2 separate regions of the Homo sapiens genome follow, and region 1 is linked to region 2. The links come from fine-mapping of genetic effects on gene expression. Tissue or cell type: tibial nerve. Region 2 holds a variant in brackets; the other region holds the start of a gene. All regions are shown on one strand. Distances are from middle to middle.

The links. PIP is the estimated chance that this variant, and not a neighbour inherited with it, causes the effect.
Region 1: it holds the start of CPNE7, and the variant in region 2 is fine-mapped to the expression of CPNE7 in tibial nerve (GTEx, PIP above 0.99).

What each region holds. Positions count from the first base shown.
Region 1 is chr16:89,573,187-89,578,327 of GRCh38, reverse strand. It overlaps CPNE7 (copine 7), which reads right to left and starts at 2,570. Exons shown (of 15, transcript NM_153636.3): 1 at 2,257-2,570; 2 at 607-789. The coding sequence starts at 2,430. RefSeq lists silencers at 3,107-3,176, 3,417-3,646, 4,107-4,364.
Region 2 is chr16:89,623,526-89,628,666 of GRCh38, reverse strand. All of the region lies in intron 1 of DPEP1 (dipeptidase 1), which reads right to left. Among named protein-coding and RNA genes, the nearest start is that of DPEP1, 12 kb to the right of the region's middle. RefSeq lists enhancers at 84-253, 4,303-5,141. The variant T/C (reference allele first, on the strand shown) is at 2,777.

The DNA of each region.
Region 1 (5,141 bases), 50 kb after region 2:
ACTTTGGGAGGACAAGGCAGGCGGATCACGAGGTCAGGATTTCAAGAGCAGCCTGACCAACATGGTGAAACCCCGTCTCTACTGAAAATACAAAAATTAGCCGGGCGTGGTGGCGGGTGCCTGTAATCCCAGCTACTCAGGAGGCTGAGGCAGGAGAATCGCTTGAACCCAGGAGGTGGAGGTTGCAGTGAGCCGAGATCACGCCACTGCACTCCAGCCTGGGTGACAGAGCGAGACTACATCTCAAAAAAAAAAAAAAAGAAAAAGAAAAAAAAGAAAAAAGAGGAAAAGTGATAGGCTGGTTTGCTCCTGTGAAAATCTCTCTCTGGACAATGTCCAGGGACCTGGCAGCAGCTGGATGGGGCAGGATGGAGGCGCTCCACAGCCTTTTATACCTTCAGGCTTTAAAACATACGAATGTATTACCCAGTTCAAAATTACATGTATATTTTAATCTAATAATGACTGTTCAGGAGGAGCTGAGGAGGGGGCAGAGCCAGGTTGGCCACCCCAGCAGGGTCCCTGCGGTGCTGGTACATCAGCCTTGAATCGGCTGTGGCCCCCACGCCAACCGTCCTCCTCCCTCCGAGGGGACGGGGCACCCACCTGCCCCAGGGTGCACTCCATGCCCCCCAGGAAATCGTCCTCCTGACAGCTGAAGCCGCTGGGCCCATGCGTGTCGTACACCTCAAAGCGCAGCCTCTGCACCTCCTCGAAGTAGTAGTCCACCGTGAAGACCTTGGAGAACACGGGATGCAGGCTGCTCCGGACCACCTCGGTTCTGCCCACCTGCAAGTGCACCTGTGAGCCGACCCCACTCCAGAGGCTTCCACCCCGGGCTCCAGACCTCCATCTCCCCTCTGCCGCTCACCCACGCCCAGGTACCTCAGGAGGACTCATACCCTGGGAAGACCTCCTGCCTGCTCTCTGTCCATGGGACCACAATCCCGAGGGCCACCCTGGGGGTCACCCCTGGCCACCACTGTCTGCTCCACCCTCAGATCACAGATGGGGAAAGTGAGGCTCACAGAGGACGAGAATGACACGCTGAGTCGGGGGCGAGATCAGATTCACACCCTGGGCTGGGCAGCCCTAAAGTGCAGGCCGCTCCCCAGCACCAGCTGAGTGGGGAGGGGGCGTAGGGTACAGGGGGGCCCTCCCTCCTGGCTGGGGTACCATGGGCTCACCAGCCTCTCCCATCCCATGCAGTTCCCTGGTCCAACTGCCCCGTAAGGACAAGACCCAGCTGGGCCAGTAGGCTACTCATTTCAGAATCCTGAAAAATCCTGCACCTCAAACCAAGGGCAAACATGGGCCACCCGTACAGCTCACGCTCTGAGGGTGCGGGCACGAGGCCTCCGTGGGGATGGTGGGCTCGGGATGTGAAGGGTGGGCTCAGGCTGTGAGGGGCGGGCACGGGGCCTCCGGGGGCAGCCGGAACCCTGGGGACAGGCGGTGAGGGCGGGGCAGGCCCTTCACCCTCAAGGTGGATGACCGGAGACGCCACCGGGTGACCGCGTCCCTTCCACCGCCCGAGCAGCCGCCCGGGCCCGCGCTGGAGCCTGGAGAGACCCCTGCGCCGGGGAAAAGCGCTGGCGCCCCGCGCGGACTGGGGTTCGAGTTCCGGCTCCTCCGCCCGCTGCGGCTTCGCGCCATGCGTTTCTCGCCCTTTCGAGGTGAAGCCACGCGTTTCACGCGAGATGGTGACCGAGGAAGCGCCCGTCTGGCGCCGGCCCCGTGCCCCTTCGGACCCCAACCGCGATCACAGCGGGTTCGCTTGAGACCCACGTTGGAGCGGGAGCCCCGGACGCCTGGAGGTCCGCACCCCAGCGCGCGCTCCCTCGCCGGCCTGCTCCCGCCCAGCCTCCCGCCCCCCGTCGGCCGGCGCCCCTCACCCCTCAATCTCCTTGCGCCTCTTGGTCGAGCCCCCTGCCCGCGCCTCATGCCTGGGCGCTTCACTCTGGCCCGGGGCCCCCTCCCCGAACCCTGGGCCGCACCCCTCACTGCGGGGCACCCCCCTCTCTCCTCCGAACCCCGCTCGCCGCCACCTCCTCCAGCCCAGCCTCTCCCCACAGCTCTGGACACCCCACCCCCAGACCTGGTAACCCCCAACCCTGACCCCGAGCTGAGCCCCAGCTCCGGGGGGCCCCGCCTTGCGCCCCACTGGCCTCAGCGCGCCCGCTCTGGTCTCCGCATCCCCAGCTCGGCGCCAGCCCCGGCCCGGTGGCCTCTCGGCCTCCCACGCCCCGGCCCTACCTGCACCCACTGGCCCTGCGCCTGCTGCAGCAACGCCACGCTGGGGTCGGACTTGGTGAGCGGGTCGCGGTCCAGCAGGTGCCGGCAGCTGAGCCGCAGCTCCACCTTCGAGGCGCAGGGCGCGGGCAAACCCCCGGGGGTTGCCGCCGCCCCGCGCTCCGAGCCCGCGCTCATGCTCCCGGCGTTCGGGGGCCCGGCTGGGCGCACTGAGGGGCCGCTGCCCGCGAGTCGGCGCCGCCGCGGCGCCCGGGAAATGGTGGCCGGCCCAGGCGTGGCCGCGCTTCCCTGAACGCCTGCCGGGCGCGGGCGCACGTGGCTCGGGCGGCCGCCGCGCGGGGACTGCAGGGGGTGGGGCGCGGCCGGGGGGCGGGGCCGGGGAGGGGCGCGGCGGGAAATGAGGGCAGGGGGCAGAGGCAGGGGTGCCCCTCGGAGATGCCCGGGAGGAGACAGCTTCTAATTCCCCGGGGACCCCCCCCCCAACTGATAGCTTTGGGGTCAGGTCGGGCGCGCCCTCCCCGGCTGTGCGCATCCCCGGCCCAGGGACCGGCTCCGGGCTGGAGGCTCCGAGCTGCGCGGGGCCTGAGCCCGGGTTCGGACCCAGGCAGACACTAGGGGAGGCAAAAGGGGGACCCCAGCTTGGCACCAGATCCCCGCGCCCTTCCCGGATCTCTAGGATCCCATTTCCAGGCTCCGCTGGTTTCGGGTACTCGCCACCTCCATCAACAAGCATTTAGTGGGCGCCTGTTGTGTGCAGGCGCCGCGCTCGTCTGGGGCTGGAAGGACCGTCCCGGGGGGCCGAGGGCTGAATCGCGGTCTGATTCCGAGGGGTCCGCGGGGCACGGTCCACACCAGTCCCCCGAGGCCGGGGCGGGGCGGGGCAGGCCTGGGTTCCGTGGGGGGTGGGCCCGCTCCGCCCTGAACTCACTCCCCCACCTTCCCCATCACCGGTCCCGGGGGAGGGAGCAGCGGAAGAGGAGGCGTCGGCGGGGACAGAAACCACCTCGCAGTCCACTCTTTTTGCCGATTTCTGCCTAAAAATAGGGCACGGACCTCGCCAAAAGCCACGGGGGTGGGGGGCGAGGGTGAGGGAGACATTAAGACTGAAGAGGCGGGAAGACCGGGCGCCTCCGCTCAGCCTCGGCGATCAGGACTCTAGAAGAAGACCCTGCGGTCAGAGGGGACCGCCGCCGACAGGGCGAGGAGGCTCAGGGCCCCGCCGGCGGGAGGCAGCACAGGCAGCCTCGGCCTGGGAGGAGGAACGCGGCCAGCGGCGTCCCCTCGCGGTCGGACGGCGGGATGGCGCCGGGCGCGGCTGCAGGGCGGGGAGGCCCCACGGGGCTGGCAGGGCCGGGAGAGGCCATGGAGACCGGCTCCTGCCTTCCCGGGAGGTTGGCTAAAGAGGCGAGGAACAGGTCAGGGCGCAGCGAGGCCTGCAGGGCCCCATCTGCTGTCTCCCCGGCCTCTGCGCCTCCTCCCTGAAGCCCGCAGTGGGCAGAGGCCAGTCCCGCTCTCTAGGGACCAGTCTGGGCCTTCCCGGCCCTGTGTCCTCCTCAGCCCAGCCTTCCAGGCTGCCGGGAGGCCACATCCTCGGTCCCCAACCACTTCCATGGGAAAAGGATGCGAAATTCAGGCAAAGGGTGCGGGCGCCCAGGCAGCTCCTGCAGGCCGTGCCTCCCGCTCGGTTCCAGCAGCCCTGGGACAGTTTTCCCCAGACCAAGCTCCGCTTCCTGCCTTGACCTCACCCGAAAGCTCCTCACCACCGCCCTGAGGTTTGCTCGTCTGCAGTGTGGCGTGAGGCCTGAGGTCCACCAGGCTGTCTGAGGGGTACCCGGCTTAAACCTGGAACACCCCAGTTCAGCCCTTGGCTGTCACATAGCGGCACCCTGGCAAAATAACAGATGGCTTCCAAGCAAAGGACGCAGGGAGCCAAGAAAGATCACAGAGTTTGGGAATTTGAGTCTCTGAAGCCCAGGGCGATTTGGGATCTCCAGCCACAGCCCTCGGCCGGCTTGCTGTCTCCTGACTGACAGCCCTGACTGCAGCCTGCTCTAATGGAGAGAAACCACAGAAGGAAAAGCCGATTCCCCTGTGGCACTGGTGTCTGGACGCTGCCTGCCCCTGCTCAGGGATCAGCCCGCAGTAGGCCCAGGTACAATGGAAGGACCCCGCAGGCCATGTGGAGCCATCTTTCCAAGGCTCCCCCTCCCAGCTTTCCCTGCAGGGCCAGACACAGGAAATGAGATCCACACACATACACGCAGGAATAATAACCGTGTTCCTTGTTGAAATATTAGACAATGCAGATAGGGAGTAAAAACAAATTTCCAGACCCCAAAGCAGCCCATCACCTCCCCACATCTAACCCTCCAGGTTTTTTTTTTTATGTGCAAATTTCTTTTAATTGTCAAAAAAAAAAAAAAGGTGCCTAACTCTCAGAGCCCTTCCCACACTTGAGAGGACTCTTCAGTATCTGCACGCCAGGCTCATCACGCGGGCCAGGCCCGGGACCCCACGCCAGGCTCATCACGCGGCCCAGGCCCGGGACCCTGCCTGGCACGGTTGGAGCACCATAGGTGTTGGTGCAGATGGTTTCTGTTCTGTAACCTGCTTTTTTCTTTCTTATTGACAATATTGCATTCAATGGTTAGCCTGGATCCCCTCATCACTGGGTTACCTATGAGACCCTCTGATTAGTGCCGACCCCCACGGCTATCCAGAGGCTTACACATGATCAATTTTAGGAGCAGCAATGACATATCTGTGCCCAAGTGCCCTGTGTGGCTTCCTGGCATCCAGGACTCAGATACTTTTCAGGCCCAAGTGCCTCTGCCTCAGCCTCTCCCACCACCCGACCCCTACCTACCCTGCAAAGCCCAGCCCAGTCT
Region 2 (5,141 bases):
AGGAGAGCATTTCCAAGAGCACCACACTCCCTCAGGTGCCACTAAGGAGAGAACTTGAGGCCACTGTATTTGTCCATTTTCACACTGCTATAAAGAAATACCCTTTGGGGGCTGGGCAAGGTGGCTCACACCTGTAATCCCAGCACTGTGGGAGGCTGAGGCGGGCGGATCACCTGAGGTCAGGAGTTCGAGATCAGCCTGGGCAACATGGTGAAACCCCGTCTCTACTAAAAATACAAAAATTAGCCAGGCATGGTGGTGCATGCCTGTAATCCCAGCTACTCGGGAGGCTGAGGCAGGAGAATCGCTTGAATCCGGGAGGTGGAGGATGCCATGAGCTGTGATCGCGCCATTGCACTCCAGCCTGGGCGACAAGAGTAAATCTCTATCTCACAAAAAAAAAAAAAAAAGAAAGAAAAGAAAGAAAGAAAGAAATACCTTTTGTGGCCGGGTGTGGTGGCTCACGCCTGTAATCCCAGCACTGTGGGAGGCCGAGGCGGGTGGATCACCAGGTCAGGAGATCGAGACCATCCTGGCTAACATGGTGAAACCCCGTCTCTACCAAAAATAAAAAAAATTAGCCGGGCATGGTGGCGGGTGCCTGGAGTCCCAGCTACTTGGGAGGCTGAGGCAGGAGAATGGCATGAACCCGGGAGGCAGAGCTTGCAGTGAGCCGAGATTGCACCACTGCACTCCCGCCTGGGCGAAAGAGCGAGACTCCGTCTCAAAAACAAACAAAAATACCCTTTGGGAGGCCAAGGCAGGAGGATCACGAGGTTAGGAGTTTGAGACCAGCCTGACCAACATGGTGAAACCCCTTCTCTACTAAAAATACAAAAATTTACTGGGCATGGTGGCCCTTGCCCGTAATCCCAGCTACTTGGAGGCTTTTGGAGGAGAATCACTTGAACCAGGGAGGCGGAGGTTGCAGTGAGCCGAGATTGCAACACTGTACTCCAGCCTGGGTGGCAGAGCAAGACTCCGTTTCAAAAAAAAAAAAAAAAAAAAAAAAAAAGAAGAAATATCCAAGACTGGGTTCCCCTGCCCTTCCTTTCCCTCTTCTCCCCTCCCCTCCTTCCTCTCTCTCTCTCTGAGACAGAGTCTCAGTAGGTCACCCAGGCTGGAGTGCGGTGGCACAATCTCGGCTCACGGCAACCTCTGCCTCAACTGATTCTCATGCCTCGGCCTCCGGAGTAGCTGGGATTACAGGCGCACACCACACCCAGCTAATTTTTTTTGTATTTTTAGTAGAGACAGGGTTTCATCATGTTGGTCAGGCTGGTCTTGAACTCCTGACCTAAAATAATGTGCCCTCCTCGGCCTCCCACAGTGCTGGGATTACAGGTGTGAGCCACCATGCCTGATCCCACATCTGACTTTTTTTTTTTTTTTTTGAGACGGAGTCTCACTCTATTGCCCAGGCTGGAGTGCAGTGGCGCAACCTCAGCTCACTGCAAGCTCTGCCTCCCGGGTTCATGCCATTCTCCTGCCTCAGTCTCCAGAGAAGCTGGGACTACAGGCGCCCGCCACCACGCCCGGCTAATTTTTTTCTTTTTTTTCTTTTTTTTTAGTAGAGACAAGTTTTCACCGTTTTAGCCAGGATGGTCTCGATCTCCTGACCTCGTGATCCGCCCGCCTCGGCCTCCCAAAGTGTTGGGATTACAGGTGTGAGCCACCATACCTGGCCCCACGTCTGACTAATTTTTTATTTTTACTACAGACAGTTTCACCATGTTGGCCAGGGTGGTCTCAAACTCCTGACCCCAAGTGATCCACCCGCCTCGGCCTCCCAAGCTGTTGGGATTACAGGCATGAGCCACCGCGCCTGGCCAAGACTGGGTAATTTTTAAAGGAAAAAAGCCTTCATTGACTCACAGTTCCACATGGCTGGGGAGGCCTCAGGAAAATTACAATCATGGCCGAAGGCAAAGGGAGGCAAGGCATGTCTTAAATGGCAGCGGGGGAGAGAGTTTGAGGGGGGGACTGCCAAACACTTTTAAAAACCAGATCTTAGGCTGGGTGCGGTGGCGCACGCCACCGCGTGATCCAAGCACTTTGGGAGGCCGAGGCGGGTGGATCACCTGAGGTCCGGAGTTCGAGACCAGCCTGACCAACATGGAGAAACCCCATCTCTACTAATAATACAAAATTAGCCAGGCGCGGTGGCTCATACCTGTAATCCCAGCTACTCGGGAGGCTGAGGCAGGAGAATTGCTTGAACCCGGGAGGTGGAGGTTGCGGGGAGCCAAGATTGTGCCACTGCACTCCAGCCAGCTTGGGCAACAAGAGTGAAACTCCGTCTTAAAAACCACCACCACCAACAAAAACAACAACAAACAGATCTTGTGAGAACTTTCTCGCTACCACGAGAACATGGGGTGAATGGCCCCACGATGCACTCACCTCCAGCGGGTCTCTCCCTTGACAGGTGGGGATTATAATCTGAGATGAGATTTGGGTGGGGACACAGAACCAAACCGCATCACTCAGCTCCACCATTCAGTGCCCAGTGCAACATGAAAATGCGGCACCCTTATTCACACATCGCAAGAATCTCAGGGCCTCTCAGGGCCTCACAGTGGCGGGAGGACGGGGGGCAGGTAGAGGGAGGCACATGTCTTCCGAGCACCAGACCGGGGCCGAAAGCCACGCGTGGACTGCATTTTGCACCGTTTCTGAGGCTCAAAGCCACGGACTTAATTCAACACGAGGGCGTCCTGGGGGTTGGGCAGGGCCCCGTGTCCTGGTAGGCTGTGGGTTCCCCTCTCACGACCAC[T/C]GTTCAAGGGCAGCGTGGGTGAGCTGGTTCAATTTCTCGGCCTCAGTCTCTTCGTCTGTCAAGTAGAAGTCATGGATGTACCTACTTTACGACAGTCCTGCTGTGAGCACAAAGGTACCAGCCACTCAGATCACCCTCGGATCAAGGTAGTCACCTTACACCTGTCTTTTCCGTGGGGTTTTATAGTTTGTCCCAGAGTTTCCAGTTGCCTTTCTTCTCCTGCCCTACACTGGGTGCCCTTATCTTCCATCTTCCAAGCTCTGGACTCTGCAACCTCCCTCCCTGCCCCCAGAGCCTCCCCTCGTCCAACCTGCTACTCCCAGCCTGGAATGTCAGTGCTCACTTAATGCCTGCACTGAAGGTCTTCCACCTTTGTTTGGTTTATAGTCCTGATAGAGTTTGAATGTTTGTCCAGATCTCACGTGGAAACTGGATCCCAGTTGGGAGGTTTTGTGTCATGGGGACGGGCCCCTCATCAATGGCTTGGTGCAGTTCTGGAGGTAATGAGTTCGTTGGGAAGAGAACTGACGGTTAAAACGAGCCTGGTACCTCCCCCCTCACTCTCTGCCTCCCTCTCTGCACGTGATGCCCTGGGAGCAGGAGAATAGGGTCTGGGGGCAGGGAACTTAGGCCAATTCGTGCTGAATCAAGGAAAAACAGCGAGGCCTGGGGCAGGGAATGGGACGCTAATTTGTGCTGACTTCCTAAAAGAGAAAACACCAAGGTCAGGGGGAGAGAGTCCGAGGCCAAAGCACGCTGAATCCAGGAAAAACTTCAAGGTCTGGGGCAGGGAACCCAGGGCCAATTAACACCAACTTCCAAAAACTACACCCTGAGGAAGAGCCCCACGCCCAGTAGCAAAGGATCAAAGGCTGCTCTCGTACAGCCCCCACCACCATGTCCCAGATGGAAAGGAAAGTGCTGTGGACTGGCTGCGGGCCACCCTTTCATCTGCAGACACCAGTTTACCTCAGCCTTTGATTAGCCACGGACCAAATCTTTCATCCAGATAAGAGGTATAGGAACCATGAAAGGTGCCCTTAAGACCCAGAAAACTGGCCGAGGGGGTGGCTCACACCTGTCATCCCAGCACTTTGGGAGAGTGCGGCGGGTGTATCACCTGAGGCCGGGAGTTCAAGACCAGCCTGGCCAACAAAGAAAAACCCCGTCTCAACTAAAAACACAAAAATTAGCCGGGCGTGGTTGCGGGCGCCTGTCATCCCAGCTACTCCGGAGGCTGAGGCTGGAGAATCGCTTGAACCTGGGAGGCAGAGGTTGCAGTGAGCCGAGATGGCGCCACTGCACTCCAGCCCGGGCGACGGTGTGAGACTCCCTCTCAAAACAAAAAAAAAACAAACCCCAGAAAACTATGTAACAGCGCCCCTCTCACCCCACTCCCGACCTTTCTCGCTTTAATAAATCCCTGCTTTCGCTGCTTTCTTTCCGTGTTTTGTTCGTTACTTTGCACGTTTTGTCCACTTCTTTGTTCAAACGCCGAGGACATGGACTATTACGGTCCAGGCCATCCTTCCAGTGACACCTGCTCCCTCCCCTTCTGCCGTGATGAGAGGTTCCCTGGGGTCCTCACCAAAGGCAGACGCTGGTGCCACGCTTCCCATTCAGCCTCCACAACCATGAGCCAAACCCACCCCTTTTCTCTATAGATGACCCAGCCTCGGGGATTTCTTTGGAGCAATGCAAAGCAGACTAAACCCTATTCCATTAGAGTTGGCCCTGCAACCATTCCCTAGCAGCGGGTCGGCAGGAATTCACTCCCCAGTCCTCCTGTCTGTCTTTATTCTGCCCTCATCAGTAGTTTCTCTGGATGTGCACTTTGGGCGGGAAACCTTTGTCCCTCAGGAGGTGACCGCACCACAGTCCGTCTGTGCATGTGTGGTGGATGGGCCCGGCTGTGTGTGGGCAACCGCTGTTCCCTCCAGGCCTGGAGCTGCCTCTTTCCTCGGAGCGCCACGACTTCTCAGCCACGTGCTTTAGTGTGAGGCTTTTTCACTCCCTGGAGCGTTTCCTCTGCCTCCGGTCCAGGGAATTTCCAGTCGCCCGTATCCCTCTTCTTCCCCTCCTTTCTGAGCTCCGTCTGGCCAGGGTTTCAGGCAGGGGTTGCACTGTCTGAGCTTCCTTTCTGCCTCCTGTCCTGGCTTTCTTCCTGCTTATCCTGTGCACTCCATTTCCTCTGTTTTGTCTCCCAGCACGGTTCTTTCGTGTTTTCTTGGGGGTTGTGCGTCTGGTCTCCGGAGGGCGGTTTCCAAGGTTTGCTGTGTTCTTTTCCGCCCCGCTCCCGTCAGGGAAGCAGATCTGCTTGGACTCAGCTACACTCTGTTCTCTTCTGAGGTTTACCAAACGGAAT